3 linked regions of the Homo sapiens genome follow. The protein of the gene in region 1 purifies or fractionates together with the protein of each later gene. This does not show direct contact. Each region holds a gene or a part of one and is shown on either strand. Other genes may lie near its edges.

What was found.
Region 2: the proteins of VEGFD (region 1) and KCMF1 purify together in Homo sapiens (affinity purification with mass spectrometry; 3 studies listed by BioGRID and IntAct, with this or other methods). This does not show direct contact.
Region 3: the proteins of VEGFD (region 1) and OAF purify together in Homo sapiens (affinity purification with mass spectrometry; 2 studies listed by BioGRID and IntAct, with this or other methods). This does not show direct contact.

What each region holds. Positions count from the first base shown.
Region 1 is NC_000023.11:15,351,810-15,362,513, reverse strand, and holds part of VEGFD (vascular endothelial growth factor D preproprotein), read left to right. Parts: intron 1-4,320; coding exon 4,321-4,511; intron 4,512-7,215; coding exon 7,216-7,364; intron 7,365-9,345; coding exon 9,346-9,446; intron 9,447-10,704. UniProt on the Homo sapiens protein: Growth factor active in angiogenesis, lymphangiogenesis and endothelial cell growth, stimulating their proliferation and migration and also has effects on the permeability of blood vessels.
Region 2 is NC_000002.12:84,972,620-84,983,323, forward strand, and holds part of KCMF1 (E3 ubiquitin-protein ligase KCMF1), read left to right. Parts: intron 1-10,704. UniProt on the Homo sapiens protein: E3 ubiquitin-protein ligase which accepts ubiquitin from an E2 ubiquitin-conjugating enzyme and then transfers it to targeted substrates, promoting their degradation by the proteasome.
Region 3 is NC_000011.10:120,212,175-120,222,878, forward strand, and holds part of OAF (out at first protein homolog precursor), read left to right. Parts: intron 1-10,704.

The sequences.
Region 1 (10,704 bases):
GCCCAGGAGGTCGAGGCTGCAGTGAGCCATGATCATGCTACTGCACTCCAGCCTGGGCAACAGAGCAAGATCCTGTCTCAAAAAAACCACCCCCTCCCCGAACCAATAGATTAGGTATAGCTTTTTTTTTTATTTCTGCAAAGTTGTGTGATTTTTTAGTAAAAGTGAAAAGTAAAAGTTAGACACTGAGTTGTAATATTGGGTACTGGTATTGCTAGGAGAATAATGAAGGGAGAAAATTCTCAAGACAAAATGATCAAAACTCCAGACTAGAAAATAACATAATTTGAAATAAGGATAATGATCGTTCCCTAGTAACGTATGAAGATTCTTTAAAAGAAAATCAGGCCAGGTGTGGTGGATGACACCTGTAATCCCAGCACTTTGGGAGGTTGAGGCAGGTGGATCACCTGAGGTCAGGAGTTCGAGACCAGCCTGACCAACATGGTGAAAACCCATCTCTACTAAAAATACAAAATTAGCCAGGCATGGCGGTGCATGCCTGTAATCCCAACTACTTGGGAGGCTGAGGCAGGAGAATCACTTGAACCCAGGAGGCGGAGGTTGCAGTGAGCCAAGATTGCACCATTGCACTCCAACCTGGGCAACAAGAGTGAAACTCCATCTTAAAAAACAAAAAAACAAAACAAAACAAAACAAAAAAACAAAGAAAGAAAGAAAGAAAACCAGTGTGAGTAGGTACTGTCATAATGAATAAAATGCTTGTCAAGTAAAGTTCTGTGGTTTCTGATTAGGCACTTAATTTTTTGATGTCATGTCAAAACAACACAAGAAGCTGCTACAGCATTGCTGATCTAGCATTCTAGATTTGATTAACATGATTACCTGGTAACTGACTATATATATAGCATAATTCAAATTAACCACTAGGCCAAAACTATTTTTTTCTTTCTACCTAAAATTGTATTTGTTTTTTCCCATTTGTAAAAAGATGTTGGGGTTGCACAGACCTCTGTTGTTGGCTGTGGGGAGAGCTGTGCATAGATGGGGACATATTCTTTGGTAGCACCTTGGGCATGAGTGTGAAGAGGATTCTTAGTGTTCATGTGTATGACTGTGTGTCTAAGTGAGTTGATGTGGTAGGAACCATAGCCTCGAGCTCACTTCAGACAGAAATTTGAAGCTCTAGATGTTTCTATGTGGTGAATTAATATAGCCTTCATGAGAACAAAGGGTTGGCACCTCATCTAGAGGTCAAAGGCCTTAACCAGATTACCTGACTGAAGGCCTGAGGTGAACCTGGAGCTATTTCATGAACATGAACGTTACCATAAAACCAAGACTAGGTGATCTAAAAAAAGTCAATGACATTGACATTTTCTAAGGAGAAAACCATTAAAATATCACGGAATTTGCAAACCCTATGAATTTATCTCGTAATTTCTAGGGGATCATCTGAAGTTATTTACTAAGTTAGAAGCAGTCAATAATGAAATCAGCATGTTACACCAATTAGAATTTGTTATCAACTCTCCCTTGTGGATTTCAAGGTAATTTCCTGAGGCAGAGCAGTCCTGCTGGGAAGCAGTAAAGAATAGTAGAGTTATGAAGCCTTTAATCAGTGATGTTGGTCATAATTGCATATGATTTTGATTAAAAGCTTACCACTCCAATTTCAAAACTTAGTTTTATAAAAAGAGAAAAAGCAAATGGAAAGCAACCTTTAAGTAGAATTTTAAATTGGGAATATTTTCATAGGTTGGTTTCTTGTTTTTTCAAGGATTCATGATTAATTATAGTGAATTAAATAATAACCATAATAATACTTAATTGAGTAATTTATCTCTCATGTGTTCAGCCTTCAGGCTTTTTATATAAATATTAATAATCAGAAATTTTTAAAAAGGTTTCTTGGGGGCTGGGCACAGTGGCTCACGCCTTTAATCCCAGCACTTTGGGAGGCTGAGGTGGGCGGATCACAAGGTTAAGAGATCAAGACCAGCCTGGCCAACATGGTGAAACTCCGTCTCTACTAAAAATACAAAAATTAGCTGGGCATGGTGGCGCATACCTGTAATCCCAGCTACTTGGGAGGCTGAGGCAGGAGAATCGCTTGAACCCAGGAGGTGGAGGTTGCAGTGAGCCGAGATCGCGCCGCTGCACTCCAGCCTGGCAACAGAGTGAGACCCCGTCTCAAAAAAAAAAAAAAAAGTTTCTCAGGATAGAATGTTTTATTATGAGGAAAAAAATAAAAAAAAACAAAGTTTAGGTAGACTGTGTAGTATAATGCAGTGCTCCAGACAACTCATATTATGTTTTCAGTGATTGAAGAAGCAACATATGAAAAAAATTGGTATTAAGGGATGAAAAAGGAGAAAGGAATGGAGAAGATGTTATAAGGGAATAATTTAGGGACTAGGGTCACATCTCAAATGGTAATATTGTATCAGTATACTTCAAGCAGACGTTTTCTCTATTCCTTCTATTCCCCTATATGGGAATTCAGGATAATCTCAGGAGAGTTCTTGAAAATGCAGTAAAAATAAAGGAGAGTTTGCCTATTGTTGCATAACACATTACCACAAAACTTAGCTACTTAAAACAATATTTATCTCAGTTTCTGTGGGCCAGAAATGCTGACATGGCCTAGATCAGTTTTTCTGCTTCAGATGTCTCTGGAGGCTGCAGTTAAGATGTTGGCTTGGGCTGCAGGCATCTTAGGGCACAGCTGAAGCAGAGTGTGCTTTCAAGTTCAGTCAGCTGTTGTTTGCAGGACTCAATTCCTCACAGGCTGTTGGACTGAGGGTCTTAGTTCCTCGCTGGCTATTGGCCAGAGGCTGCCTCAAGTTCCTTGTCGTGTGGACCTTTCTAACATGGCGGCAAACTAACACAAGAACTGAAAACCAAACACCGCATGTTCTCACTCATAAGTGGGAGTTGAACAATGAGAACACATATACACAAGGAGGGGAACATCACAAACCAGGGCCTGTTGGTGGGTGGGGGGCAAAGGGAGGGAGAGCATTAGGACAAATACCTAATGCATGCGGGGCTTGAAACCTAGATGACGGGTTGACGGGTGCAGCAAACCACCGTGGCACATGCATACCTGTGTAACAAACCTGCACGTTCTGCACATGTATCCCAGAACTTAAAGTAAAATAAGCTAAAAAAAAAAAAAAAAAAAAAAGCCTGCAAGTGGAGAAGGAGGAGAGAGAGAGAGAGAGTGTGTGTGAGAAAGTGAGACAGAGTAAGAAAGAAGGGAGCTTGCAATAAGTAGAAACAAGACTGCAATCTTTTTTAACTTCATCATGGAAGTGGTATCCCATCACTTTTGCTGTATTCTCTTCATAAGAAGCAAGTTACTAGGTTCAGCTCACACACGAGGGGAAGGCATTTACACAAGGGCATGACTATCAGGAGATGGGGACCACTGGGGGTTAGTTTCAAAGCTGCCTACCACAAGAGATTTTCACCAGCACCACAACCCCACACATAATAAATAAACTCTACAGTTCCATGGCAAGCTACAAGGAAGTCTTTGTGTTGTCTTTATCATAAAATTGAATCTTTCCCCCAAAACACCTGTAGAAAGGCTATGCAGCATTAAGTATCAAAGGGTCAAAATCTAATTTAAAAAATAAATTATGAGAGAAAAGCAAGTACTGTTTTACAAGAAAGTATATAATTTTTTTATTCCCATAGGCTTCTTTTTTTGTTACCTTCAAATTAACTATGGTCAAAGGATTGCTCATTCCAGTAATAAGAACAGGCTTATTTCATCATTTACATAAATATCAGTATCGGGCACTTGCAAATGAGAAAACTCTGATTTGAGTAAGGATTAGTTTCACTTCAATTTCCATTTATGCGTTTGCCAAGTTTAAATCCTACTGTAGTTACTTAAGCAACCAACAGAAACATATTTCTTGATGATGCTAAAACCTACCTACACCTGGCTTTAAAGCAGAAGAAATGCTATCCAGCTGTATCCTATAAATTGCTTGATAAATAATATTTACATGTTATTTCTTTACACGCTTCTATTTACTTCCCTATTAACCAGCTTCTCCAGATGTATTCAGTGTAATTATGTACAGGACATGGTGTTCTACCTCAAAGGGAAATAAAATACTTATATTCTACAAGGTATGGTATAAATGGGAAAGAGCACAGAGATTGGTTGTAACTTCTCTGCAAACAATCTTTGGTTAAAGGACTGACAAAAAATATCCATCTAGTAAAAGAAACAAGCAGTAGAAATGTGAAAATGACTGTGTTCAGCATAACCCTGGCACATGTTGGCACACCAGGACCATTCCACCTGCTAGCCCCAGTGAGCTTTCTTTCTCTCTGCAGTTATAGATGAAGAATGGCAAAGAACTCAGTGCAGCCCTAGAGAAACGTGCGTGGAGGTGGCCAGTGAGCTGGGGAAGAGTACCAACACATTCTTCAAGCCCCCTTGTGTGAACGTGTTCCGATGTGGTGGCTGTTGCAATGAAGAGAGCCTTATCTGTATGAACACCAGCACCTCGTACATTTCCAAACAGGTATAAGGACATCGGCAAGCCTGCCGTCTCTAAAGCCCTGATGATAATAGTGTTGATAGCTACAACAACCTTGTTGCTAAACACTGTACTAAATGCTTTATGTGCATAATCGCATTTAATCTTTGAAACAAATCAAGAGGGTATTTTATGCTCCTTTATAGATGAGGAAACTGAGGCTCAGAGAGGTAACTTACTTATCCAAGTTTACACGGCTGATAAATAGCAGAGCTGGGATTCAAACCCAGGTCTGTGGGAGGCCAGAGCCTGAACTCTTATCAGTTATTGTCTCTCTGATGCTATGATGTCAAGACTCAGAAAACCATATGGAAGTTACTAGGACAGGATGTTAAAAGGAATGAAGATAGCTGATGGCAGGTTCTGTGTTGCTCAAATGGAGTGATTGAGAAAAATTTAATGAAGGTTGTGGGCAGAATTGGGGAAAGAGGGATGGGACAGTGAAGCACCTGAAGCTAGCAAAAAGGGTGAGATTTCCCCACCCTTCGACTGAGGAGACAAGGGGAGGGAGCAGTTATGGGAACCCAGAGGGAAAGCGGAGAAGAGGGTTTCTGGACTGGCCACTGTCAACTCTTAGCCTGGCAGGGAGTAGGGGCAGGGGCTGGGAGAGGCAAGAGGGTTTATAGATGTAGCCCATGGAGGGCAGCGTCCTGGGGCACAGAGCCTGATGGGGAAGGAAGGGGAGAGGATGGTGTCTCTGGAGGGGCAAAGAGAGAATATCTAGCACAAAAGACATTTGGAAATAATTCTGCAGTCCCCATGAAAGAAATAATTCAGCCCTCTTCATCTTATAAATTTCCCTTTGCTTAGTAGGTAAGTTTTCCTTTCTCTGGTTACCATGTTTTTAATAAATGTCGCATATGAGAGCAGTAGTAACAAACTTGGGAAAGCAATACTAAAAAACTGTACATCAAACTACATTATTTTTGGTATCTGTTGCAAATTCTTTGAATGTTGATATACTTATTTAATTGTCAGTTTGCCTATATGGTTTATTCTCCTTTTAACTGCAAAAAGAGGTAGTACAAGAAAATTACATGCACTGAATATATCCATGTTAGGTAATTTTCTTAATGCTGATTTGTTTTGTTAATAGATTTACTTATCCTTAATTTTGTTCCTCCACCCTCTAAAATATCCTTTAAACTGCAGAGTTTCTTTTTCTAAATTCTTTTAGAGAATCTTGGAGCTTGTGTGTATTTTAACCTCTACTATTTGACAATTAGGAAAAAAAAATGACCCAAGTAGGGCTAAGCATCAATTCTGAGTAGAAAAAAAGCTTGCATAACGTAAGAGGGTTTAGTTCATGATCATGTGATTCCCTAGAGCATAGCCAAAAAATTGTGCAAGAAGATGAAGTTTATGCAAAGTAAACACTACAAAAACACTCTCACTGAGACTCATGGAAGTTCCATTACATATTGAGATGTCAGAATAAACACAACCTTAATGGATTGCTTCCACTTAATAGATAGTTGAGTACTTTATTTTGACTGCTGTACTCAACAAATGATTAATTTCATACAATGTACTTAAGTGTAAGTGTACAGCAGTTTTTCTTCCAAATATGCATTTTTGAACATTTTAATAGTAGTTTTTTAAAAACTATCTCTCGCCCCAAAGTTATGGACTATTTGGCAAACCACCTCTTAGAAACAAAGTGAACAAATGAATACTCTATGTAGTAAGGACTACATGGAATGGTGATTGAATAGACAATGCATTAAAATCAACTTCAAACTCATCCACACATCATAGAACCACTCAAGAAAGTTGTGTAATCTCTCTGTACATCTGTTTCTTCACCTGTAAGATGGGGATAATAAAAACCCACCCCATAATGTTGTTATAAGGGGTAAATGAGTTAACATGAAAGCACTTACAACAGGGCCTGGCCTACGGAAAGCGTAGAAAGAATGATATACATGTTAGCTATAATTATTTGTTTGGGCATGATGATCTTGTATCAGTCAGCTATTAATACACAGTGCTACGTAACAAACACACTAAAACTCAGTGGTTCCAAACAACAATGATTTACTCTCACTTATGTATCTGAGGTTCAGTTAGTTTAGGGTGGATTCAGCTGGGCTTGACTCTAAGCTGCAGTGTGAGTCCAAGTCAACTTCTATGTTTCCCATCGCTTGGACCAGCAAGCCTGCCGGATTATGTTCTTTTCATGGCTATAGCATAAGTTTGAGAAAACAAGCCCCATAAAACATGCACAGTTCAAATTTGTACTTCTGTCATGTCTGCTAACATCCCACTAGCCAAAGAAAGTGACATGGCCAAATAAAAAGTCAAGAGACAGGAAACTATATTTCTTCAATAGAGATGGTGTGAGAAGGGATGAATAAATAGTTTGAATAATAATCTATTCTAATAAAATCCTAAAGAAACTGCATAGCTTTAATCTCATTTAACCCTTACGATTTACACTCAAATTTAAAGCAGGAGCAGGGATTAACAGTACCATTTTACAAGAGTATCAATGATCAAAAAGTTAAAAGATTTGACCAAACTTAAACACTTCATAAAGTTAGATGAGCCTGTTTAGTTCCATTCTTAATGGACAACTTGGCTAAAGTCATTGCCGTAAATGACAAAGGCAAAAATTCAGACTAGAACAACTTTAAAAATGATATATAAAATTAAAAAAATATATTGTGGTTATCTTTCTCTGCTGTAGCTCTTTGAGATATCAGTGCCTTTGACATCAGTACCTGAATTAGTGCCTGTTAAAGTTGCCAATCATACAGGTTGTAAGTGCTTGCCAACAGCCCCCCGCCATCCATACTCAATTATCAGAAGATCCATCCAGATCCCTGAAGAAGATCGGTAAGCACTTTTGTTTTTTTTTTTATACTGGATTATGCTTATTTTTGCCTTGCCAAAACTGTGTGTAGAGGATTTTTCATTAATGTAGAGTTATCAATTTATCTTCAAATTATTCATATTTTAGCTTCTAACCTGAACCTACTGGTAATAACTGGCAAATACATATTTTTATTAGATGTTAGATATATATTGTGGTAGGACCAAAACGCTCAGTGGTATGAGCTTGTCATGTCTACTTGTAGACACGTTTGTTCTTAATATGCATAGTCTACTGCAGGTGTAAAACCGCTGTAACCTCAAATTTAGCACATGTTCCAGAACAAGCATTAAATAAAACTTATTTCAGGCTGTTTGTATATTTACATCCTGAAATGAGAGAAAACAAAGAAGATTCCTGGGGTCATTGGGGAGTGACAAAACTAGCAGCACGTGAGTTTTGCAACTTTCTAATCTTTCCCCCTTAAGATTACCAAATGGAAAACCCTTATTTTAAATTAAAATGACTTAAAATTAATTTGGCTTTGAAATTCTCTTGAGATTAATTTTGTGATTATTTATAAGACAAACGACAAAACCAAAGGTAAGGATCACTTATTTGAAGAAAAAAAAGGATTTAATATAAAGAAACAAGTAAAGGGTAACTGAATGAAAAGATCATTAGTTAGATACTTAGACTTTGCAAAAGTAAAGCAATAAATATATTGTGTGAGTGGCAAGTAAAAGAGTAAGCTGGTGATTAGTTAACATTGAACCAAGAAGACACCTCCCGCCTCTCTCCAGCAGAAAAGAAAACTTGTAGAAAAGCAACATTTATTCTCAAGATGTTCCTGCTGTTCTGGCCAATGCTTTTATCTTTATTTTAAAGAAAATAATCTTAGGGGCCGGGCACGGTGGCTCACACCTGTAATCCCAGCAGTATGGGAGGCTGAGGCGGGCAGATCACGAGGTCAGGAGATTGAGACCATCCTGGCTAACACGGTGCAACTCCGTCTCTACTAAAAATATAAAAAAAAATTAGCCGGGTGTGGTGGTGGGTGCCTGTAGTCCCAGTTACTTGGGAGGCTGAGGCAGGAGAATGGCATGAACCTGGGAGGTGGAGCTTGCAGTGAGCCGAGATCGCGCCACTGCACTCCAGCCTGGGCAACAGAGGGAGACTCCGTCAAAAAAAAAAGAAAAGAAAATAATCTTAGGAGGTATGTTAGAACATATTTAATTTTCGTAAATAAACTGTTGACAGCTATAATTTGCATAGTTTTAACATATACCTTCTTAAGAAGATTACAATTTCCAAAATTACAGTTTAGTTTCTAAACATTTCCACGTAGAATATTTATAATTACAGAATCACTATCTAGTAAGATGCAGTTCATAAATACAAATTAAGCTCCTTTAAAATCTTTTTTTTTTTTGAGACGGAGTTTCGCTCTTGTTGCCCCGGCTGGAGTGCAATGGCGAGATCTCGGCTCACTGCAACCTCCGCCTCCCAGGTTCAAGTGATTCTCCTGCCTCAGCCTTCCAAGTAGCTGGGATTACAGGCATGTGCCGCCACGCCCGGCTAATTTTGTATTTTTCAGTAGAGATGGGGTTTCTCCATATTAGTCAGGCTGGTCTCGAACTCCCGACCTCAGGTGATCTGCCCGCCTCGGACTCCCAAAGTGCTGGGATTACAGGCGTGAGCCACCGCACCTGGCCCGCTCCTTTAAAATCTTAACTCTTCTCACATCCTTATCATTTTGTGGTGAGAACATTTGAAATTTACTCTCTTAGCAATTTGGAAATATAAAATACATTATTATTATTGACTATAGTTACCATGCTGTGCAATAGATCTCAAAACCTTATTTCTCCAAACTGAGTATAAAAAGCAAAAAATAAATTTAAAAAATCTTAACTATTATCTACTCAGGAATTTATTTAATGTTCCAAAGTTTTGATTATCCTTGAAAGCTTTTAAATCTGGTTCATTGTTTTCTTTTCCTAGCTGTTCCCATTCCAAGAAACTCTGTCCTATTGACATGCTATGGGATAGCAACAAATGTAAATGTGTTTTGCAGGAGGAAAATCCACTTGCTGGAACAGAAGGTAATGATAGTAGTAGTAAAATAATAACAGTAATAATAAAAGTAGCAACAATAGCAGCAACCGTTATTGAGTACTTAGTATGACCAGACAATGTTGTAAATCTTGTATATGTTTTAACTCATTTAATTCTCACAACAACCCTGTAATGTACTATTGTTATTTCTTTTTTTACAATTACAAAATGGGCACACCAAGATATCGAGTAATTTCCTCAAGGTCACACAGCTGAGAGTGATAGAAGTGGTCAGATTCCAGAACCCTCTGTACCATAATCATATAGTAAGTCCATCAATGCATCACTCTGCTTTTTAATCTCAAAGAAAAGCCCAGAGTGGTTGGAGCATCCTGAAACACTGAAATTGAAAGGGGATGTTAAACTTGAATGAAAGCTGCTTCAGAACTAAATACTAGTCAACTGCAGTTTACTAATTTATTTGTATAAAAGTCTCACAGGAACATAAAGTAATTTTGGACTTGGTTTCTGTCAGCTGCATCATATGAAAACACGCCAGTAATTTGAAAAAAGAAATGGAGAATAAGAGAAAATTTTTCTGGAATTAGGGCAAAGCAAAAGCAAAATATGGCTATTGGTCTAAGGGGAGCTGGGAGCAAAATGAGATATAGTCAAATTGTCATTGCTCATAATCCGTAATTCTGTGACTTTGGGTGATGAACATTTGCTTGAAAATGAATGCATTTTAATGTATTTTCCAGAGAGCTTTACATGGTTCCACCAAAAAAAAAAAAGAAAGAAAAAAAAAGTCACAAGTAGTCATGCAGTTTTAACCTTGCTTGTTTTAAACTATAATCTATAAGCAAGAACAGTAAGGGCTAAACTCTAAGAAATCTGTCCTATAAACTGTAAATAGCAACCTACTCTCCATTCTTCTGCCTCTCAGCTTCCTTCTAAATGTTTTCACGAAAGCTCAGCCCAGAGCATGTGGGGAAATTTAATATTTATGTGGTTTAAATGCCCATGCCGATCTTGAATGTTCTTTACACCCTTCCCACCAAGTGTTCAGCCATCCTCTACCAGAACATACATCAGTTATTTGGAGACTCGCCATCCAGTGAGGCAGCACCAAGGGGTGGGCACACTCCTGTTGTTATACTGAAATGAAATCTCTCTCCAGAACAGACCAGACTGCCCAATGGAATACAATAAGAGTCATATATGTAACTCACATTTTACATTAAAAAGATAAAAAGAAACAAGTGAAATTTATCTTAATATATTTTATTTAATCCAATCTATCCA
Region 2 (10,704 bases), on another chromosome or scaffold:
TAGTGAGTCAGTTTAGTGTGTGCTTAGCACTATGGGAAGGATATTCTTTGGGAAATACGGACCTTAGAATTTCAAGGCTGAAAAACTCAGATTGATTAAAATTGTATTTAGAACAAGTTTCAAAATTCGCATTACTAATTGCGACGTTGAAATTGACTCAACATTCTGTGTTCAACGATTCTGTATTTTAAAAGTTACAAAACTAATATGAAATATACTATATTTTCTTCGCAAAGCATTTGTTGAGTACTTACAGTGTTCAAGTGTTGGGCATTTTGAAATAATGAGGTACCTAGCCTCATTGAAAGGGACACAGAAGTAGGAAGCTATGCCTCTTTTCCCCACTTCGTCTGCTTAATCGAAATGTATCCTTATCTCTGTAATTTTAAGAACTCGTAATTAAAGTTATAATCAGTTTTCAATTTGGGATATTAAAGTTTATCTTAAACTGTAGTCCTGTGTACATTGACCACCTTCAAGACAAAACAAAAGTGAGCAATGGCTGCAAGCTCTCTTACTCTTGAAAACTGGGAGGGTTAGTTAGAGAATCACAGCCATGGAAGAGTGTTTCAGACCCATTCTCCTTGGTCTAAGAAAGCATACAGATAGTTCCAGACGAGCATTCTAATTGAAGTGTCCTGGGAAGAAAATTCCTTCACCCCCAGTGCTCTGTTAGAGTAATTAAAATCTCATATTTGGAACATTCTTGAATGTAACATATATTCTGTAATTTAAGCCCATTTCCCCCCATTTGGTGCTGTGCAAAGGTGTGTGGTTATGAAACTTATATTACCTTTTAGTTACTTGAATATTGCTGAACCTCAGCACACTAGTAGCACACCTTTCCTAGTAACTTATGTTAATGTCAGTAAATAGAACATACCTAATGAAAAAGGAACATACCTAAATACATCTGTTGAAGACTTATAGTACAATATTCGACAAGTGATTCTCTTTCAAGGGTCTAGTTTATGGCCTAAGACAGGAATAGCAGTCTCACGAATCACATTTAACTCATTAGATACATATTTTGTGGAATATTAGTTCAGACTGTCATTATTGTCATCAGTAAGACTTTGACCTATCAGTAAATACAGTGTTTGGCACCCTTGCTATTAGTTCTTTTCTTACCTTTGCCTTTTTTGGGCCAAAGAATCCCATTTCTTTCAGCATTTCTTTCTTTCTTTCTTTTTCTTTATTTCTTTCTTTTTTTTTTTTTTTTTTTTTTAGCTGGAGTCTCACTCTGTCACCAGGTTGGAGTGCAGTGGCGTGATCTCGGCTCACTGCAACTTCCACCTCCCAGATTCAAGCAGTTCTCCTGCCTCAGCCTCCCAAGTAGCTGGGATTACAGGCGCCTGCCACCACACCCATCCAATTTTTGTATTTTTAGTAGAGATCGGGTTTCATCATGTTGGTCAGGCTGGTCTTGAACTCCTGACCTCAGGTGATCCACCCGCCTTGGCCTCCCAAAGTGCTGGGATTACAGGCGTGAGCCACCACGCCCAGCCTCCGTGTTTCTTTAGTGGTGTAATTTTTGCACTCTCAGTCATCTGTCCACCTCCAAATTCTCTGTAGTTCTCATTTCCTTTCAGTAGTGTGATCCTGAACTGGATATAATAGTCTGGTAAAAGGTTTGAACAAGCCTATCATGTTGTACTTGCTTGGTGCTTCCTTTTCAGGGCCTTATGTGTGCAGGTAATATGTTACTTTGTCTTTGTACCCACCCTAATGAATTACACTAAATCCTATGATTTTATTAATGTAACTTTGGATGACACAGTCCTGAGATGGACACCTGTCAAGCTTGAAGGCTCAACCTTGTGAAGCAGTGCCTCTGAGAAAGGCAATGCAACCAGGAGCATAGAGAGATGCTCTAGTCCCGGGTTCAGCATGCTTCTTCTGTAAAGGGCTAGGTGGCAAACATTGCAGGCTTGGCGGAGCTGTAATAGTACGAAAGCAGCTATAGACAACCTGTAATTGAAAGATCATGGCTCTGTTCCAATTAAAACTTTATTTGTGGACACTGACATTTTAATTTCATATATATATATATATATATATATATATATATATTTTTTTTTTTTTTTTTTTTTTTTTTTTTTTTGAGACACAGTCTTGCTCTGTTGCCCAGGCTAGGGTGCAGTGGCGTGATCTTGGCTCACTGCAACCTGCACCTCCCGGGTTCAAGTGATTCTCCTGCCTCAGCCTCCCGCGTAGCTGGGATTGCAGGCGCCCACCACTGCGCCCGGCTAATTTTTGTATTTCGTTTAGTAGAGATGGGGTTTCACCATGTTGGCCAGGGTGGTCTCAAACTCCTGACCTCGTGATCCGCCGGCCTCGGCCTCCCAAAGTGGTGGGATTACAGGCGTAAGCCACCGCACCTGGCCGAATTTCATATAATTTTCATGTGTCATGAAATATGATTTGTCATTTGACACCCCCACCATTCAAAAATACAAATAACCATTCTTAACTTTCGGGCTATATAAAAGCTGGTGGTGGACCGGCCGTGGTGGCTCACGCTGAGGCAGAGAATTGCTTGAACCCAGGAGGTGGAGGTTGCAGTGAGCTGAGGTCGTGCCACTGCACTCCAGCCTGGGCGACAGAGTGAGAATCCATCTCCAAAAAAAAAAGTGGTGGTTGGATTTGGCCTGAGGGCTGTAGTTTGCCTTACTTTACCTCTGCCCTAGACTGGCGCTTTAGAGAGTTGATAGAGCTTGAACTATCAAGAGTCTAGAAGGGGCCCAGTCAGCTTGGGATTCCGTCATTTTCTTTGGGTGATGGGAAATGAGTTCACAGACTGAACCAGCTCCTCCGTACTTCACTTTTCAGCAGCACCATGAGGAATGGAAATAATTGTTCCTCAGGAGTGGACAACAGGCTCCCCACCCTACAGACCCTTAGTGGAGATGGCAGTACCCTACATTTTTCCTGCTTGCCCGTTAATACTTTTCCAGTGAGAATTGTAGGGCCACTTTTAACTCACTTTGTGGTGTTCTTGTCATGTTAACATTTTATAGACTTTAGCACCCACTTTGTGTTCACCCTGCCAACACTGTCTAGTTCACAGTGAACCCAATCATTTTTTATCTTGATGTATTTTTTAAAATGTCTCACTATCATACTTTCAAATACATTTAAAATGTAAGTATGTTATTCAGAGCTTAAAATCTACTTTTAAAGCTTTCCAAATAAAAAAAAGCAACTTAACAAATTGCTCGCTGCTTATTAGCTAAAATGAAATCATGAATGTTCTTGCATAGATTAGAGCCTAATTGATTACCTGGATCTAGGTACATGTGTCGCCTTAAATCATTCAACCTTTCAGTCACTACTATGTGTAAGGCAGTCTGCTAGGTTCCAAGGAATGTGGGGCTAAGTGAATAAGATGCAGCTCCTTACTTTAAGTCTGGCAAGGAAGATGCATTTTTTACGTAGCTTCCACAGTGCATTGTGAAACATGCCATAAGGAAGGGATAAACACTGATGACAAAGTAATTGCCAACTTTTACTAATTTTGTCAAATTTCAGAGAGGTACTCTACTGTGATTCTAGCACTTTTTTCTTGAGTGCCTTCTTAACTCCTTTTTTTTTTTTTTTTTTTAAAGACAGAGTCTCGCTCTGTCGCCCAGGCTGGAATGCAGTGGCGTGATCTTGTCTCACTACATCCTCCACCTCCTGTGTTCGAGTGATTCTCCTGCCTCAGCCTCCCGAGTAGCTCGGATTATAGGCACCTGCCACTGCTACTGGCTAATTTTTCTATTTTTAGTGGAGACAGGTTTCACCATGTTGGCCAGGCTGGTCTCGAACTCCTGACCGCAAGTGATCCACCCACCTCAGCCTCCTAAAGTGCTGGGATTACCGGTATGAGCCACCACGCCCAGCACCTTCTTAACTCTTTCTGGGCTACTTTTGATTTTGGGTAAAATTGTTTGAGATTTCAAGCCGGTTGCAGTGATGTGCACATGTAGTCCCAGCTAGATGGGAGGCTGAGAGACCCTATTTCTTTAAAAAAAAAAAAACAAAAAAAAACAAATTGAGATTTCAAGTAGAGTCCTTATCTTTATCTGATTTATAATTTCTCTAGCTTTTTGAAGATTTTCACATGTAAAAATGATAGTGGATAAATGAGCAGGTGGTCATATTGTTATGCTAGTTTCAGAAGTATCTGATACTATTTATTTTTAAAATGTAAAATACAAGACTACGTAGGCCATTAATCTACTTAGTCCCAACTTTTTTTGTTTTTATTTTTTTAATTGGCAAAAATTGTATATATTTATCATGTATAACATGATGTTTTGAAATATGTATACATTGTAGAATGGCAGCTCCAACTTTTTGAAAGTTGTACCACTCTTTTCTTAGTAGATTCTAATTTTCTCTCTCTCTCTCCTTTTTTATAATTATTTTTTTTTACTCTCTGTTGCCCAGGCTAGAGTAGAGTACATTGGTGGGATCTTGGCTTACTGCAACCTCCATCTCCCAGGCTCAAGTGATCCTCCCATCTCAGCCTCCCAGAGTGTTGGGATTACAGGTGTGAGCCATTGCTCCTAGCCTTAATTTTCTCTTCTCAAAAAATGTTATCTGCCACTGAAGCACACATATAGACAGAAATAATTTGGTTTTGGGATTTGGGGACTGCAAAGCCAAGATTGGTAATTAGCATGTGATTTTAATGCAGTGCCTTTTGCCTCCCTATAGAAATGTAAGTGGACTCCCACTGATAAGATCCTTACCATCAGGTCTTCTTACAACTTATTGTACTTTAACTGTAATCTGTTAACAGATTATGACATTCTTAAGACTTTTTCAGTTCGTTTTTTGTTTTTGAGACAGGGTCTCTGTCGCCCATGCTGCGCACCAGCATAGCCCGCTGCAGCATTGACCTCGCAGGCTCAAAGAATCCTCCCACTTCAGCCTCCATAGCAGGTCGGACCACAGGTGTGCGCCCCACACCCGACTTTTTTTTTTTTTCTTTTTTGTAGAGACTGGATCTTCCAGTATTGCCTAGGCTGGTCTCAAACTCCTGGGCTCAAGTGATTCTCCCACCTCAGCTCTCGAGTACTGGGATTATAGGTGTGAGCTGCCATGCCCAGCAACTTTTTCAGTTTGAATAAATCGTAAATTACATTTACCTTGACTTTCAATAGAGAATATATAAGAATGTAAATTTATGGGAAAATGAATCACATTTTAATTTCTGGGGTCTTTGATTTCATAATTTCATTTAAAGTTCATTTTGAAGCTCATTTTCCCATATTTTTATATTCATGTTTAAGTTAAAATGTAGTAAAACATAACTACATGTTCTTGTTTCAAATTGGGAACTCAATTTGGAAGAGATTCCTTTTAGTCTGAGATTTTAAGATGTTTTAGCAGCAATCTTTTTTTTTTTTTCTTTCCTCGCTCTTGTTGCCCAGGCTGGGGTGCAATGAGGCGATCTCAACTCACCGCAACCTACGCCTCCCAGGTTCAAGTGATTCTCCTGCCTCAGCCTCTCGAGTAGCTAGGATTACAGGCATGCGCCACCTCACCCAGCTAATTTTGTATTTTTAGTAGATAGAGGGTTTCTCCATGTTAGTCAGGCTGGTCTTGAACTCCCGACCTCAGGTCATCCACCCGCCTCGGCCTCCCAAAGTGCTAGGATTACAGGCATGAGCCACCGTGCCCAGCCTTAGCAGCAGTCTTGTAAGATGGTAACTTTTTCACAGTAGCAGCTTATGAAACTTATGATGTGAAATAACTAAACAGACCCCTTCATATTAAGCTTTGCAACCTTTTTAAAAGAAATCCATGCATCATAACTTATTTTCAAAACATCAACTTTATGATATCTATCATATATATTTGCCTAGGTTTTTTGTCTTTTGGTTTTTGGGTTTTTTTTTTTTTATACTTTAAGTTTTAGGGTACATGTGCACAATGTATTTGGGTTTTTTTTTGAGACAGAGTCTCACTCTGTCATCCAGGCTGGAGTGCAGTGGCATGATCTCGGCTCACTGTGGCCTCTGTCTCCCAGGTTCAATAAATTCTCCTGCCTCAGCTTCCCAAGTAGCTGCATTACAGGCATGTACCACCATGCCTGGCTAATTTTTGTTTGTTTGCTTTTTGAGATGGAGTTTCGCTCCTGTTGCCCAGGCTGGAGTGCAATGGCGCGATCTCAGCTCACCACAACCTCCACTTCCTGGGTTCAAGCGATTCTCCTGCCTCAGCCTCCCGAGTAGCTGGGATTACAGGCATGCGCCACCATGTCTGGCTCATTTTGTGTTTTTATAGAGACAGGGTTTGTCCATGTTGGTCAGGCTGGTCTCGAACTCCTGACCTCAGGTGATCTGCCCACCTCAGCCTCCCAAAGTGCTAGGATACAGGCATGAGCCACCGTGCCTGGCTAATTTTTGTATTTTTAGTAGAGATGGGATTTCACCATATTGGCCAGGCTCGTCTCGAACTCCTGACCTCAAGTGATTCCCCCTTCTGCCTCCCAAAGTGCTGGGATTACAGGTGTGAGCCACCGCGCCTGGCCATGTTTTTTTTGTTTTTAAACTAGAAGCTCCAAAAGTTTTTAGTGAAGGCTAAGCTGTCATTGAATTATCCTAGAAATAATGTTTTTTAAATCACTTTATGAGCTGGGCGCTGTGGCTTATGCCTGTAATCCCATGGGAGACCAAGATGGGTGGATCACTTAAGGTCAGGATTTTGAGACCAGCCTGGCCAACATAGTGAAACCCCATCTGTACTAAAAATACAAAAAAATATCTGGGCGTGATGGCAGGCGCCTGTAATCCCAGCTACTCGGGAGGCTGAGGCAGGAGAATCTCTTGAACCCAGGAGGCGGAGGTTGCAGTGAGCTGAGATCACCCATTGCACTCCAGCCTGAGCAACAAGAGCGAAATTCTGTCTAAAAAAAAAAAAAAAATCACTTTATAAATATAGCTGTGGGGCTACTTTCATGCATATGGACTCAAAGGAAGCGCTCCCTAAACTGCATATTCATAAAAGTTAAAAGTAGAATGCTGTTCCTAATAAAAGTCTTTTTTTATAGAAGATTAATTTTTTAATTAATTTTAGTGTTGTGCTAAGGACCATGATGTTTTTCATTTCCTTAAAATTATAAGGTATTTTTTCAGTCTTTGAAGTTATTCATTAAAATTGAGAAAAGAACCCGTAAGCAGTATACAGATCAGAGCATCTTAAAATTTGGTAATTTTTTTTTTTTTGAGACCGAGTTTCACTATTGTTGCCCAGGCTGGAGTGCAGTGGCGCGATCTCGGCTCACCGCAACCTCTGCCTCCCGGGTTCAAGTGTTTCTCCTGCTTCAGCCTCCCAAGTAGCTGGGATTACAGGCATGCGCCACCACGCCCGGCTAATTTTGTATTTTTTTTTTTTTTGTAGTAGAGATGGTGTTTCTCCATGTTGGTCAGGCTGGTCTTGAACTCCTGACCTCAGGTGATCTGCCCACCTCAGCCTCCCAAGTGCTGGGATTACAGGCATGAGCCACTGCGCCCAGCCAGTTATTTTTATATGTTAGCCATGTCTTGATTTATGTTAAAGATCTGGGATAAGGCAGACAGTTTCCTAAAGGAACATATTACCTAGATTACATGAGAAGGAAGTGAGGAGCCAGGAAAAGATAGGCTGTTCTTGGGTTGGTAAGGACCAGTGGCCAGGTGGGTGTTGGCAGAGGAAAGACAGGCAAGGTGGGTGTGAAGCTTGGAAATGGATCTGTAGCTACAGGATGTTGGAAACAGAAAACCAGCTCTCACGCCTGATGGAATGTCTTGAGAGCTGGGTACCAGGAAGTGAAAACACTGCCCAATGAAATGAACAAGAGATGAATGAATTGCCTTGTTAGGCACCTTCCACCATTCCCTCTCTGCTACATCCCTGATGGCCCTCTTGGTGTTTGTTAACCATGGTAACTGCCTGTAGAATTGTTTTTAGTTGTTGGCTCTCTGAGTTGTAGCAAAGTAGAATTATGAGTTCATCCAATTCATATACACAGTCAATTAGCCTCATATCTTTTTTTTTTTTTGTCTTGAGGCCGGGTCTCACTCTGTCACCCAGACTGGAGTCCAGTGACATAAACAAGGCTTACTGCAGCCTCAACCTTTGGGCTTACGTGATCCTCCTGCCGCAGCCTCCCAAGTAGCTGGGAGTACAGGCATGTGCTACCACGCCTGAATAATTTTTGAAATTTTTGTAGAGATAGGGTCTCATTGTGTCATCCAGGCTGGTCTTGAACTCTTGGGCTCAAGCAATCCTCTTGCCTCGGCCTCACAATGTGCTGGGATTATAGGTGTGAAGCACCACACCCAGCCTAGCCTCATCTCTTCTATGGCCACAGTGCCAGCCAGCAGTCCATCAAACTTTGCCAGTGGCCACGGGGGTACTGGCAAAGAAGTATAGATGGATCCCTGTAACTTAATCACTGCTACTAGAAAAAAAAAAACTGAGATCAGAAGAGTGGGTCAGTTGTATTACCCTCAGCTAGAAGAAATAGCAGAAGAATAAGTGGATGAAGCATCTTGATATCATGACTAATTAGGTTTGCACATTATCTTCTGTTGAATTTTTTTTTTTTTTTTGAGACAGAGTCTCACTCTGTTGCCCAGGCTGGAGCGCAGTGGTGCAATCTCGGCTCACTGCAAGCTCCGCCTCCCGGGTTCATGCCATTCTCCTGCCTCAGCCTCCCAAGTAGCTGGGACTACAGGCACCTGCCACCGCTCCCGGCTAATTTTTTGTATTTTTAGTAGAGACAGGGTTTCACCGTGTTAGCCAGGATGGTCTCGATCTCCTGACCTCGTGATCCACCCACCTCGGCCTCCCAAAGTGCTGGGATTACAGGCGTGAGCCACCGCGCCTGGCCTTTTCTGTTGAATTTTAATGTTTTTTTAATCTCTTTTGCTGGTACTCAGTGCCAGTGTCATGATATCAACTTTTTCTACAGTAAGAGGATTTTCATTAGGAGAGTCACTTTTTAGAGTACTAGGTTGATGAGTTGACTTGGAACAGTCACAGGTATATTTGATTATAATTTATTATTTGGTTATGACTTTTATTGTTCCTTTGAGACTCTGTCATCCTCCCTACTCAGCAAAGTAAAGGGTCTCTCCAGCAGCACTCCTGTCTTATTCTCCAGGCTTTTTGTTTGTTTGTTTGTTTGTTTGTTTTTTTGAGATGGAGTCTGGTTCTGTCGGCCAGGCTGGAGTTCAGTACCGCAGTATCAGCTCAGCTGCAGCCTCCGCCTCCTGGGTTCAAATGATTCTCCTGCCTCAGCCTCCTGAGTAGCTGAGATTACAGGCGCCCACTACCATGCCCAGCTAATTTTTGTATTTTTTTTAGTAGAGACAGAGTTTCACCATGTTATCCAGGCTGGTCTCGAACCTCTGACCTCAGTTGGTCCGCCTGCCTCTGCCTCCCAATGTGCTGGGATTACAGGCGTGAGCCACTGTGCCTGGCAATTCTTCATAGATTTGTGATTATCTTTTGATACTTAGAAAAGAGCTAAAGGGATTAAACATTTATTTTTGTGTTCAGTGTAGTTTTTGTGTTACGGGTTTTTGTGAATGGTTAGATAACTAACAACTATTGGGGTGAATAGCTGTACCCTACTGTTCTTGTTCCACCAGTATTCTCCTTTGGTGTCCTCTGTGGTTGTAGAGGTTTGGCAGTGTAAGCAGAGAAGTTTTCTAAATTAGGAGTTAAGGATGTTGAAGTAGAGCAGGCAGGGATTATATAAAGGAGTTACAGATGTGTTCCTTATTTTCTTTTTTTTTTTTTTTTTTTTTTTTTTTTTTTTTGAGCCAGTCTTACTTGTCGCCCAGGCTGGAGTGCAGTGGCGCAATCTCGGCTCACTGCAACCTCCACCTCCTGGGTTCAAGTGATTCTCCTGCCTCAGCCTCCCGAGTAGCTGGGATTACAGGCATGCACCACCATGCCCTAATTTTTGTATTTTTAGTAGAGACGGGGTTTCGCCATGTTGGCCAGGCTGGTCCTGGACTCCTGACCTCAGGTGATCTACCTGCCTTCGCCACCCAAAGTGCTAGGATTACAGGCTGAGCCACCATGCCCGGCCCTTCTTTTCTATGATATTGAAATACATGCTGGGAGTTGAGGATGGTTGGATGGTGAATGGGAACCCAGGTAGTTTTCATGTTCAAAGATCTTGATGTTCAGTCTGACACTGTTAGGGATTTGTATGTAGTTAATTGCGGTTCTAAGTCAATGTAAATTATACAGTGTGTTTGTATGGCTATACATATGAATATACATAGTGGTCACAGAGGTGGGACTGATTTTCTCTTCTCTAGGAAAACTGGTGATAAGAACGTCAAGTGACAGTAGATGAGAAATACAAGTGTTCCTATATTAGATCAGTATCAAGGGTCTTCATTCTGAGTCAGACATGCTGTATATTTTCATGTTTCTTCGTTATTCTAGATCATATTTTCTACAAGCTTTTTAAAAGCCACCATTGGAAGAGAAATAACAAATCTACTTGCAGAATTGGCATAGACCATTGCTATCCAATAGAAATCTAATGTAAGCCACATACATAATCTTAAATTCCCTGGTAGCCACATTTTTAAAAAAGGAGGTGAAATTAATAATGAAATAACAACCCACTATATCCAAAATACCATTTCAACATGTAACTGACATAGAATTGTTTATGATATATTTACATTTTTTTCTTACAAA
Region 3 (10,704 bases), on another chromosome or scaffold:
GCCTGGCAGAGAAGCGAGCCAACCCCCCTATTTTGGCCCAGATTAGGGTTAGGGAGTTAGAGACCAGCCCGGTGGGTGGGTGGGTGGGTGGGTGTGGGTGTGTGGGTGTGTGTCCCAGATTACGGTTTGGGAGTTAGAGACCAGCCCGCTCTTGGTGTGTGTGTGTCTGTGTTGGAGGGAATAAGAAGGGCCTTGCACCCAGGGGGCTGGGGGATTATCAGGAAATGGGCCTGGATGGTGAGTGACTAACAGTGACCCAGCAGCAGGAAAGCTGGAGGAAAAGAGGGTGGGTAAGTCTTAGGTATTCAAAAGGAGCGTTCTGTCTCCTTCCCCCAGCTAAAGAGAGGCCCTGTGAGGCTCTGTCCCTGGGGGAGTGCAGGGGTGAAGCCGATTAGATAGCTGGGGGAGCCCGGGGCCCCGGGGACCCTTGCTGAAGCTGCCTGTCTTTCCTCCCTCGTAGAGACAGGGCGCTTTAGAGGAGAGGTGGCGGAGTTTGGGAAGTCAGTTAGGGACCCAGCCAGATTGCCATAGTTAGCAGGGGTGAGGGGTTAGGCTTGACCGCTAGAGGTGGGTGGGGTTGGGGGGTGAGGCTTGACCGCTGATTGCCCCAGGGCCACGGAGTTGGCACTGACATTGGACATAAGCAGGCAGATGGGGGGTGGGGTAGTGAGCGTTCACAAATGGGAAGACTTTGTAGCCCATCCTTACTCCGCAGGCCTAAGCTAGGCACCCTGCCTCCCCACCTAAACCCTAGGAGAATTTTATCAAGTGTGTTCTGTTCCTGAAAAATCTATGTTAGTGGCTGGATCCATCAGGAATCGGGGATCTAATCTTCTGTCCAAGCCCTTTGTCCTTGAAAGTTAGCCTTAGGCCAGGCTGTGAGGCTCCCAACCCCCTGCCCACTGGATGTCATCTTGTGGCTGCACTAGAATCCTGCAGAGAGACTTCCCTGGCTGTGGCCAGGACAGTGAAAGGCAATGGGTAGGGCTGAGCTTTTATAGCCTTTAGCTACATCTGGAAGGTTTTTATTGCTGTGATCTGAAGGGAGAGGCTAAGAAGTACCCAGGTAGCTGTGATGTGCTGGCAGTAGTGGCTGATGGCGGGGGTGGGGTGCTGGGGATTGGAGTGAGGGTATGCTGGTCATCTGACTGCCCAGTTAGAAAATGCATCTGGAGATTGTGAGCACCTCATTTGAATCTCTACAGTGGTTCAGACCTCCACCCAGGTTTCTAAAGTCTGATTTTCAGGTTAGCCTCTGACCCAGAAGCTACCATTTCATACCCACCTCTGGCATCTCCAATTTCATCAGCAAGGGAGGGAATTGGGAGTGGAAGACACCGAAAGGAAACCAGCTTTCCCAAGTCCCTTTAACTCCAGGTTTCTCCATTGGCCTAGGACGGGGTGGAGTTGGAGAGTGCAGTGTGGGGGAGAATAGCCTTACCCTCACCCAGGCCACTCACTCACTGCCTGCACTGGCCACAGCAGCTTCTATGTCCAGATCCTTCTAGGGTGGGTCACCTCTCAGTTCTCAAGGCCCCATGCCTCATAGTGTTTGTCAGATTTCCATAAGAAAGTTTGGTCTAGAAGGAATGATTTTTCCTATAAGAAAAAGACTTCGGCTCGGTGTGGTGGCTCACATCTGTAATCCCAGGATTTGGGGAGGCTGAGGCAGGCTTATCGCTTGAAACCAGGAATATGAAATCTTCAGGCCAAACGAGACCCCTGTCTCTACAAAAAATTTAAAAATTAGCGGAGCACGCTGGTGTGTGCCTTGTAGTCCCAGCTATTCAAGGAGGCTGAGGCAGGAAAACCACTTGAGCCCAGGAGCTGAGGCTGCACTGAGCTGCAATTGTACTACTGCACTCCAGCCTGGGAAGTCACGCTTTTTGTGTTTCTTGTACCAAACTCATTTGCAGTGATTTGGGAAAAGTCCTCATCTACTTGGGAAGAGCCTTGTTTGCCATTTGATCACGTTGGGGAGAACAGTCCAGACTGAATGAGACAGACTTGGTTTACCACTTATTAGCAGGTTCACCCTGGGCAAGCTACTTGATCTCTCCAGACCTTCATTTCTTCATCTATAAAATGGGGATAATAATAGCACATATCCCACAGTTAGTAGTGCCTATGACATCCTTACTCTGTATTAGATACTGTGTTAAGGGCTCAAGACATAGGAGCTGTTAGCTTTGCAATTGTGGCTCACACAGCATTTCAGCAAGGATCCTCTCTGCTAAACTTGGACTCAAAGACATTGAACAACGGACCCAAGGTCATGCAGAAAAGTCAGTACTGAGCCTGGAGGATCCTTGAGCTCTTCATCTTAACCTTCTCCTTGAAGTGCCAAAATTGCTGGCCAGCCCCTCAGAGCAGGAGCAGCCATCCTTGTCCTGACAGTCCACCCAGGGCAGCAGTGAGCCTCCCTGTGTGGGATGGGACCAAGGCTTCTGTCTGATTCCCAACCCTATCCAGCCCCCTCTCTCCAGCCCTTCCCACCTGTTTGCCTCTACCCGCGTCAGAGTTCTGACAGTCTAACTCTCTCCCACACTACTGCTCTGGACCTTGACGCAGCAAAGCAGTCACAGTCGTCAACCCACTGGAGGACACATAGCCTGGAGCCCAGGTGAGGCTTGCAGACTCAGTAGCTTGGAGCTATCAGATGGCCATCCTGCATTACTGCAAGCCCTGCCCAGAGGCTGAGTGAAGGCCATCAGGCTGACCGAGCCACAGCTCTGAAAGAATGCCGCAGCTCAGTGGCTCCCAGCTTTGCCGCACCTCACAATCACCTGGGGAGCTTTGAAAATTCCCACTGCCTGGGCTGCACACCCTACCAGTGAAATCAGAATATCTCAGGGTGGGAGTCAGGCAGCAGTCGTTTTGGTTTTGTTTTTTCTTTTAAAGAACCCAGGTGATGTAATCCCAGCACTTTGGGAGGCTGAGGCAGGCGGATCACAAGGTCAGCAGTTCGAGACCAGCCTGGCCAATATGGCGAAACCCCGTCTCTACTAAAAAATAAAAAATAAAAAAAAATTAGCTGGGCATGGTGGCATGCACCTGTAGTCCCAGCCACTCAGGAGGCTGAGGCAGGAGAATCGCTTGAATCCAGGAAGCGGAGGTTGCAGTGAGCCTGGATCGCGCCACTGCACTCCAGTCTGGGTGACAAAAGAACCCAGGTGATTCCAGTGTGCAGCAAAGTTTGGGAACCACTGGCGCAGTTGCTCTAGGGGAGGGGAGGGGACCTGGAGAAGGAGCCAGCTCAGGTTAAATGAGGGTAGGGCCCAAACTCAGTCACATATTTGAAACCTGTCATCTTACCCACACTAATCCTAATGTGTTTTGAGCAGCACATATACTTCGGGCCTAATGCTGTGTGCCCTCAGTACACAAACTAATTCACAGCGCGCCCTTGGTGGGCAACACTCTCCTTTATACTCCACATCCTATGGGTGTAATTAGCCCTGGATGTACATAATCACTGGCATATCTAATCATAGGTGTGTCACCATCCCCTCTCCCTAAACTGGCTATTTGACAGCCCTTCTGGTCTACCTCCTGGAAGCTGGTATTCTTGCCAGTTTCTCTTTCACCTCTGTCCCCTAGTCCGAGTGGCCAAAAGCTGGGAAGAGGATGAGTCACGCTCCAGGCTGCCTGCCTTGGGGCTGACCGGATGGGGAGGGTGATACTGACAGATATGAAGAAGGTCATGTGTGATGGCATCACGGTGGTGGGCGGTGGGGGTCCCTTTCCCCTCCCAGCATCAGGGAGGATAGGGAGACACAGACTCCAAAAGTGTGGAAGGAGGGGATCCTGAAGGCCCACAGCTGGAGCCCTGGAGGGAATAAGCAAGATAAGGGGAACTGTACAGCTGTGTGGGTCAGCTCAGGGCCGCTTCGAAGGGACAAGGACCCATGGAGGATGGAAGCTTGAGCCCTGTCCTGGGCACTGATGAGTGAGTGGGAGCCAGAGGAAGGGATAGTCCAAAGAATGCTAGGGCCCCTGTGCCGGGGGGCCTGGTCTGTGGGTGGGGGAGCAACATGGGAAGCCTTGAGGTGCAGTCAGTAAAGATGTGGAATGTGCAATGTCCACGTTGCCACCTAAGAACGTGTATCCCAAGGAGATATCACAGCACATAGATGTGGGACCGAGAAGCTTTCAGGGCCCAGTCTGCCCCTACCCTGTCTGTGTTAGCACCCTTAAGATTTGGCGTGGAAGCATCTGATGGATGGAAAGTCTCCTTGGGGAGGAAAAGGCAGTGGAGGTGCTTTCGGGAGAGGCCCAGACTTTTCTGGAGCTCAGAGCATTTCCTCACAGGTATTTACAAGAAGTCGCCAGATGGAATGACCAGGCTCACTGACATGGGGCTCCTGGGTCTAATATCTGTCCCTCCTCTGCGTGTGAGGAATTCCTCCTCAGATCAGGATGGCCAGCCCTGCCTGAGGGTTCAGACCCCCTCCCGGGAGCTTGGCCAGCATCTCCCACCCCTGAATGCTATGTCCAGGTGGAGTCCTAGCAAAAGATCCCGGTAGGCCATGAAGACTGCCACCTGGGATAATGGAGGATCCTGCTGGGAAGCTGGTGGGGAGAGTGAGTTAGTTCCCTCCCAGGCTTCCCAAGGCACAGAGAGGTGGTGGAGATAAACTTAGGACAGACTCCTGTTCCGCTGGCGGAGGGCCCAGCCTTGAAGTGAGGATTGCATAGGGTCTGGAGATCACCCATTGAGCAGTCCCTCATGTCACACATGCTCTTATCTGATCGCCTGGAGCTCTCAAGTGAGGCTGACAAGATGAAGCAGCTGATGATCCCAGATTAGGACCCAGGGTTCCTTCCAGTATATCCTGACTGCCTGTCTGCCATGGTACCATGAGTGGGCTCCTTCCAGTAGGCTAAAGAACCCTGGGGAGGGAGGTGGAGGGGAGAAGGAGGCTGGAAAAAACCTTGGTGCAGAGGAACAAATCCACAGAGACCCTCGTTTGTACAGACTTGGGCTGGACCACTTCCCCCACGCTCTTACCTCCAGTGGATGGAGTGTTGGCTACTTGGCCATGCCTGCAACTCCTCTCTCCCCTGCATGGCCTCTTGGGGAGCTGGGTGAGGGGGATGAGTTTGGAAAATATCTCACCAAGGCCAGGTGTGGTGGCTCATGCCTATAATCCCAGCATTTTGGGAGGCCGAGGCAGGCGGATTACTTGAGGCCAGGAGTTCGAGACCAGCCTGATCAACATGGTGAAACCCTGTCCCTACTGAAAATACAAAAATTAGCCAGGCATGGTGGTGTGTGCCTATAATTTCAGCTACTCTGGAGGCTGAGGCGGGAGAATCACTTGAACCGGGGAGGCAGAGGTTGCAGTGAGCCGAGATCACGCCGTTGCACTCCAGCCTGGGCAACAGAGTGAGACTCCATCTCAAAAAAAAAGAAAAGAAAATATCTCACAGACACTAGTGAGCAATCACTATGTACGTTTTTTCCTGCCACTTACCCACTGTGTGACTTGGCAAGTCACTTAACCTCTCTGAGCCCCAGGCTCCTTGCCGGTACACCAGAGACAACAGTGTGATGCTTGGGGTTCAGTGTGCGCAGTGACTAAGAGGCCCTTCGCAGAACAGAGGCCCGCGTGGGCATGTGAGGAGTGAGGTGCCAGTGCCCGCTTGGATGTCCGTCTACCCCACCGTTAAGCATGTTGCTGCAGCTGCTGCTTTTCTGCTGTAGGGACCAAAGCATCATGAGGAGCTAACATCCTTGAAGTTGGCAAGTGTTGAAGTGGCTGCCACTAGGGATTCAGATAAAGGGCAGGGAGAGGCATCAGGGCTGGGAGTGCGGGTGAGAGGGAAGCATGGAGACCCGTCTCAGGAGCACTGAGTCAGCAGCACAGTGGGGCGCAGTTGATCCACATAAAGCCTCACATTGTTCCTGCAGCAGTCAGGACAGTGGTGACCTTTGGGATTCGGCTGACAGAGCACTGCTCTGGGGAGGGGCTGGGGGCAGGAGCACTGCTCTGGGGAGGGGCTGGGGGCAGGAGCACTGCTCTGGGTGAGTGGTTGTGCTAATGCCCCAAGACAAGCAGCCTCTGTCCAGGCCTAGCCCTGAGGGGATGCTGGCATCTCATCATGGGGCGGCCTAGGTCCCTGGGCACTGGCCTCGGGATGTGCGTGGCCTGGCTCTGGGTGGAATCCATCCACCCCGTTCCTGCTCGAGAAGCCTGGGCAGAGCAGCCAGGGTGCTTCCAGCTTTGCCGTGGGGCTAGGAAGGCACTGCTTCCTGGCTGGCTCTGCAGGCTAAACCCCCTCTCCCCTCCCCAGCCCAGCGAAGCCAGCCACTTCTCTAGCCATAAAGCAGCCCCAGCCAGGAGCAGAGGAATAAATATTTAGATTGGCTCAGCCTGGGCCCCAGAATCATGCTCTCTGGTGTGACAGGAAGGAGACCAAGATGGCAGAGGACACTCCCAGGAGAGAGCGCCAGCTGTCCAGGAGCAAGAGGGTTGGAAGAATGGGAGGGGGCCAAGTGGCTTGTGTGGCCCTAGAGCGATGACCTGCAGCCTGGGCCATGACCAGCACTGGACAGTGGTGGCTGGAAGCAGGGTGTGGAGGGAAGGGGCAGTCTGCTGCCCTGGCCCCCTTTGCTTTCCATTCTCCTGCAGGCGGGCCTCCCCCCAAACCCCAGGGCTTTCTGGGGAGGGGCTGAGGAAGAGCGCCTGGAGAGTGGGGCCAGCTAGGGACCGTGATGGGAAGGCAGGGTGCCAGAGGAGACCGGGCAGGCTGGAGCAAGGTGATGACATGCGGTAAGAGTGTGTGCCTGCACATGCACGCATGTACACGTGTGTGTGTGTGTGTACACACGTTATGAGAAGTGGCATCGGGAGGAGGCGTGTGAGGAGAATCGAGCAAGTGAGGAGGGTGATGCGGGGTGTGCCCTGACGCTGGGCATGAGATGGGGAATTCACAGGGGGGGTGGGCGTGGGGACTGCGGAGAGGGGTGTGATGAGACGGTGGGGAGCCGCCTCTGCCGGCAACAGGGAGACTGAGGGAGGAGACAGGCCCAGATGCACCCCTGTGGAGGGAATGGGAATGTGGAACAGGAGCCACTGGGAGACCTTGCGGGAAGGAGACTGAGACCCAGCTTGTCTGTGAAAGAGGACGGTGTGCGCGAATGGGGAAGCCGTGTGAGCCTGTGCATCAGTTGAGATTAGGCTCAGCCGTGAGCAACATAAACCCCCAGGAACAGCGGCTGAGGCCGTGGCAAAACAGCCTGTTTCATTCTTCCCAGTGTTATCTGAGTCTGGAAGCCAGTCAGGGCTGGTGTGACAGCCCCGCTATCCCCTGGGATCCAGGGGCTCCCTCCCCACCCTCAGTGCTGAGCACAGGATGTCTGCCCAGGGGTGCTCTGCCGTCTCTCAGCGCATTCCCCCAGTGCAGCTGAACCAGAGCAGCCTTCCCTCTGGAGACACAGGTGGATCCCAGTCAGACAGCATGGCTGGGATGGGCACAGGGAGGAATTGAGTATCTGGACAAGGGCTACGGAGGGGAGCCAGGACAAGCATGAAGATCACTGGACTCAGAGTCAGGAGGTCTAGGCTTCTGGCCCTGGCTCTGCCACTGTGTGACTCATGAAGGTTACTTCCCTGCTGGAACCTCACTGGGCCATGAACTAGATGATCCCCTAAACCTTCTAGATGCCAAAATAGCAGCTGTAGCACTATCAGCCTGCAGGAGCCCAGCTGCAGGCAAGGCCGAGAAGAAAGAGTGTCTGCACATTGGAGGCCAGTGGGTTGATGGAGGCCCTAGAGCATTCATTCGTTCCTCCAGCTACTAAGCATTGAGCCCCAGCTGTGCGACAGACCCCAGGGTCACCATGTGAATAGGCTAGAGTCGCTGCTCTTGAGCCAGAGGCAGGTCACAGAGGGCTTGGATGACTAACTGCCTGGGCAGAAGGTGCTCCATGAGGACAGAGACCATCTGACTGGGGCACTGAGATCCAAGGCACTCTCACAACCTCAGGCAGAGTCTGATTCAGCTCCAAACCACAGGTCCCTCATGTCACCCCAGGCTCAAACCCACCAGTGACTTCCAGAGAGGCACAAGAGGAAGCCTCCCACTCCTCAGCCTGGTTCAGACCCTGCGTCCTGCTTGTGTCCTGACCCCTTGCCAGCCTCATCAGCACTCACGACCCTTCCCCTCCTCCCCTAGTACATTCCCACCGCTTTTCTCAGAGAACTCTTCCATGCTGTTGTTCATTCACCCTTCATGTATTCCTTATCAGATGTTTATTGAGCACCTGCTGTGTTCCAGGGGGCAGGGATGCACTTCAAGCAAGCCACTTTTCCTGGCTCAAGAAGTTGAGTCTGGAAAGAAAGACAAGTAAAGAGGTCAGCAAAAACACAGTGGGAGTAAACAGTGGGATTTGTGCTCTAGAGGCAGCGACTGGGATTGGCCAACTCTGCAGAAGGGCTGGTGAGGGCAGCACTGGGAGGGCAGTCAGAGGAGGGTCGTTTGTGAGCTGTGCCCTGCACACAAGGCACAGCTGAGACAGCTGAGCACAGGGCATCCCGGCAGAAGAACCTGCTCACAGAAAGGCCTAGGGGTGACACAGCATCGCTCATTCTGGGAACTACAAGCTCTCCGGTTCAGTGCATGGGAAGTGCAACAGTTGCTGTGAGCAGGGACCTGGGATGCCAGGCTCTGGGGTTAGGCTTTCTGGTGAGGACAAAGGGAGCCCTTGAAGGGCATTCGGCCACTCGGGTGATAGTAGCATGGAGGGATGATTGGGTGGGGGCACTGGGAGACTCATGCCTGGCTGTCTTCTGTAAATGCCTCATTGCTGGAAAGCCCTCCATCCTTTAACTGTCAAGGGCCAATGAGGAGTCCCTCACTGTGCGAAGTCTTCCCTCCCTCATGCCACCCCCAGCCCCAACCTTAAGGGGACAACGAGCACTCCCTCATCCACCCTTTACCTCCATTGCACTTGGAGTAAACCTCAATCCTAGGCCTATTGTTTGCTGACTTGAGTTGTCAGAAGTCAGCCTCCTCCACCATCCCCTGGAAAACAGGAATCTGTGTCTTGGCCAAGGCCACTCCCCTGCCCAGGTGTTTGTGAAGGCCCTGCCCCATGTCCTGCTAATCAGTGCTCTCCCACTGATTGGCTGATTACTTGCAAGCCCCAGAGGAGTCACCTGACCTGTCTAGGCCATAGGTACATCTAGAAGAGAACAATCTCAACTCCTGGGTCTTCAGGAGTGGAGTAGATTTCAGGTGGAGCAAGGCAGACATAGAGCCAGGAATTGCAGCCACAAGAGAGAAACTGAAAGTTCAGCCCACTGTGTTCTGAAACCTTTCACTCATTTATTCCCTGCAACAGTCCCTTGAGGTAGATACTATCATTTTATTCAGCTTGCCAATGTGGAAACTATGGTACAGAGAGGTTAAGTAAATCCCTTCAAGGTTATGTGGCCAGCAGAGGCAAAGCCAGGATCTGAACATGGGTAACACTGGCTCCAGAGCCTTTGTTCTTAAATTCTGTGCTATCCTAGAGCCTACCTACTCCTTACTTAAAACTACAGACGAGGACCCTAGCAAACACTATTTCCCCAGGGTACTTGCCACACCCTCTGCGTGGCCCAGATCCTGGCCCTGGATGTAGTATGCTCCAGTTCTTCCAGGTAGGCTGGAGATTCCTGGAAGCTTGTGGGAGAAGGAGCCTTATAACAACCTCCCGTCTTGGGGACCCTATCCTGGGTCCTGAGCCTCAGGAGCCTGCCTGCAGTCCCTGTTGTAGGCTCTTCCCCAGCTAAGCATCTGCTTTAGGTGTTAGGCCACATGAAGTACGTCATCCCAACAGATTCCTGGGCAAGGAGGAAGGCTGGGAGTCAGGCTTCCATCTGGCCTGGGCTTAGCATCTGAGGGGACTTTCACCCTTCCCTGTGAAGGTTGGAAGAAGAGGGGGCCCCAGAACCTTGCCAGGGAGTCTGAGGTGCAAGGAGTGGAAAGCGGGAGGGACACTGGTCAGGATGATGGAGTCCTGTTACCAAATAGACCCAGAAAGTAGGGCTGCCCACTCCTTCTCAGGGATCAGCAAGTGGAATGTGCTTTTCTGGGGAAATAGGACGAAAGGGCCGGGCGCAGTGGCTCACACCTGTAATCCCAGCACTTTGGGAGGCCAAGGCAGGCGGATCACCTGAGGTCAGGAGTTCGATACCAGCCTGGGCAACCTGGTGAAACCCAGTCTTTACAAAATACAAAAATTAGCCGGGCATGGTGGCACATGCCTGTAATCCCAGCTACTCCAGAGGCTGAGGCCGGAGAATTGCTTGAGCCTGGGAGGCGGAAGTTGCAGTGAGCCGAGATTGCACCACTGCACTCCAGCCTGGGTGACGGAATAAGACTCGGTCTCCAAAAGAAAAAAAAAAAAACAACCATGCACACAAAGGAGAGACCGGAGAATTTGTAGTTTAAAAAGTCCTGGCAGAGGCCGGGTGCAGTGGCTCACGCCTGTAATCCCAACACTTTGGGAGGCCGAGGCAGGCAGATCACAAGCTTAGGAGATCAAGACCATCCTGGCCAACATGGAGAAACCCTGTCTCTACTAAAAATACAAAAATTAGCTGGGTGTGGTGGCCCATGCCTGTAGTCCCAGCTACTCAGGAGGCTGAGGCAGGAGAATCGCTTGAACCCGGTAGGTGGAGGTTGCAGTGAGCCGAGATCGCGCCATTGCAC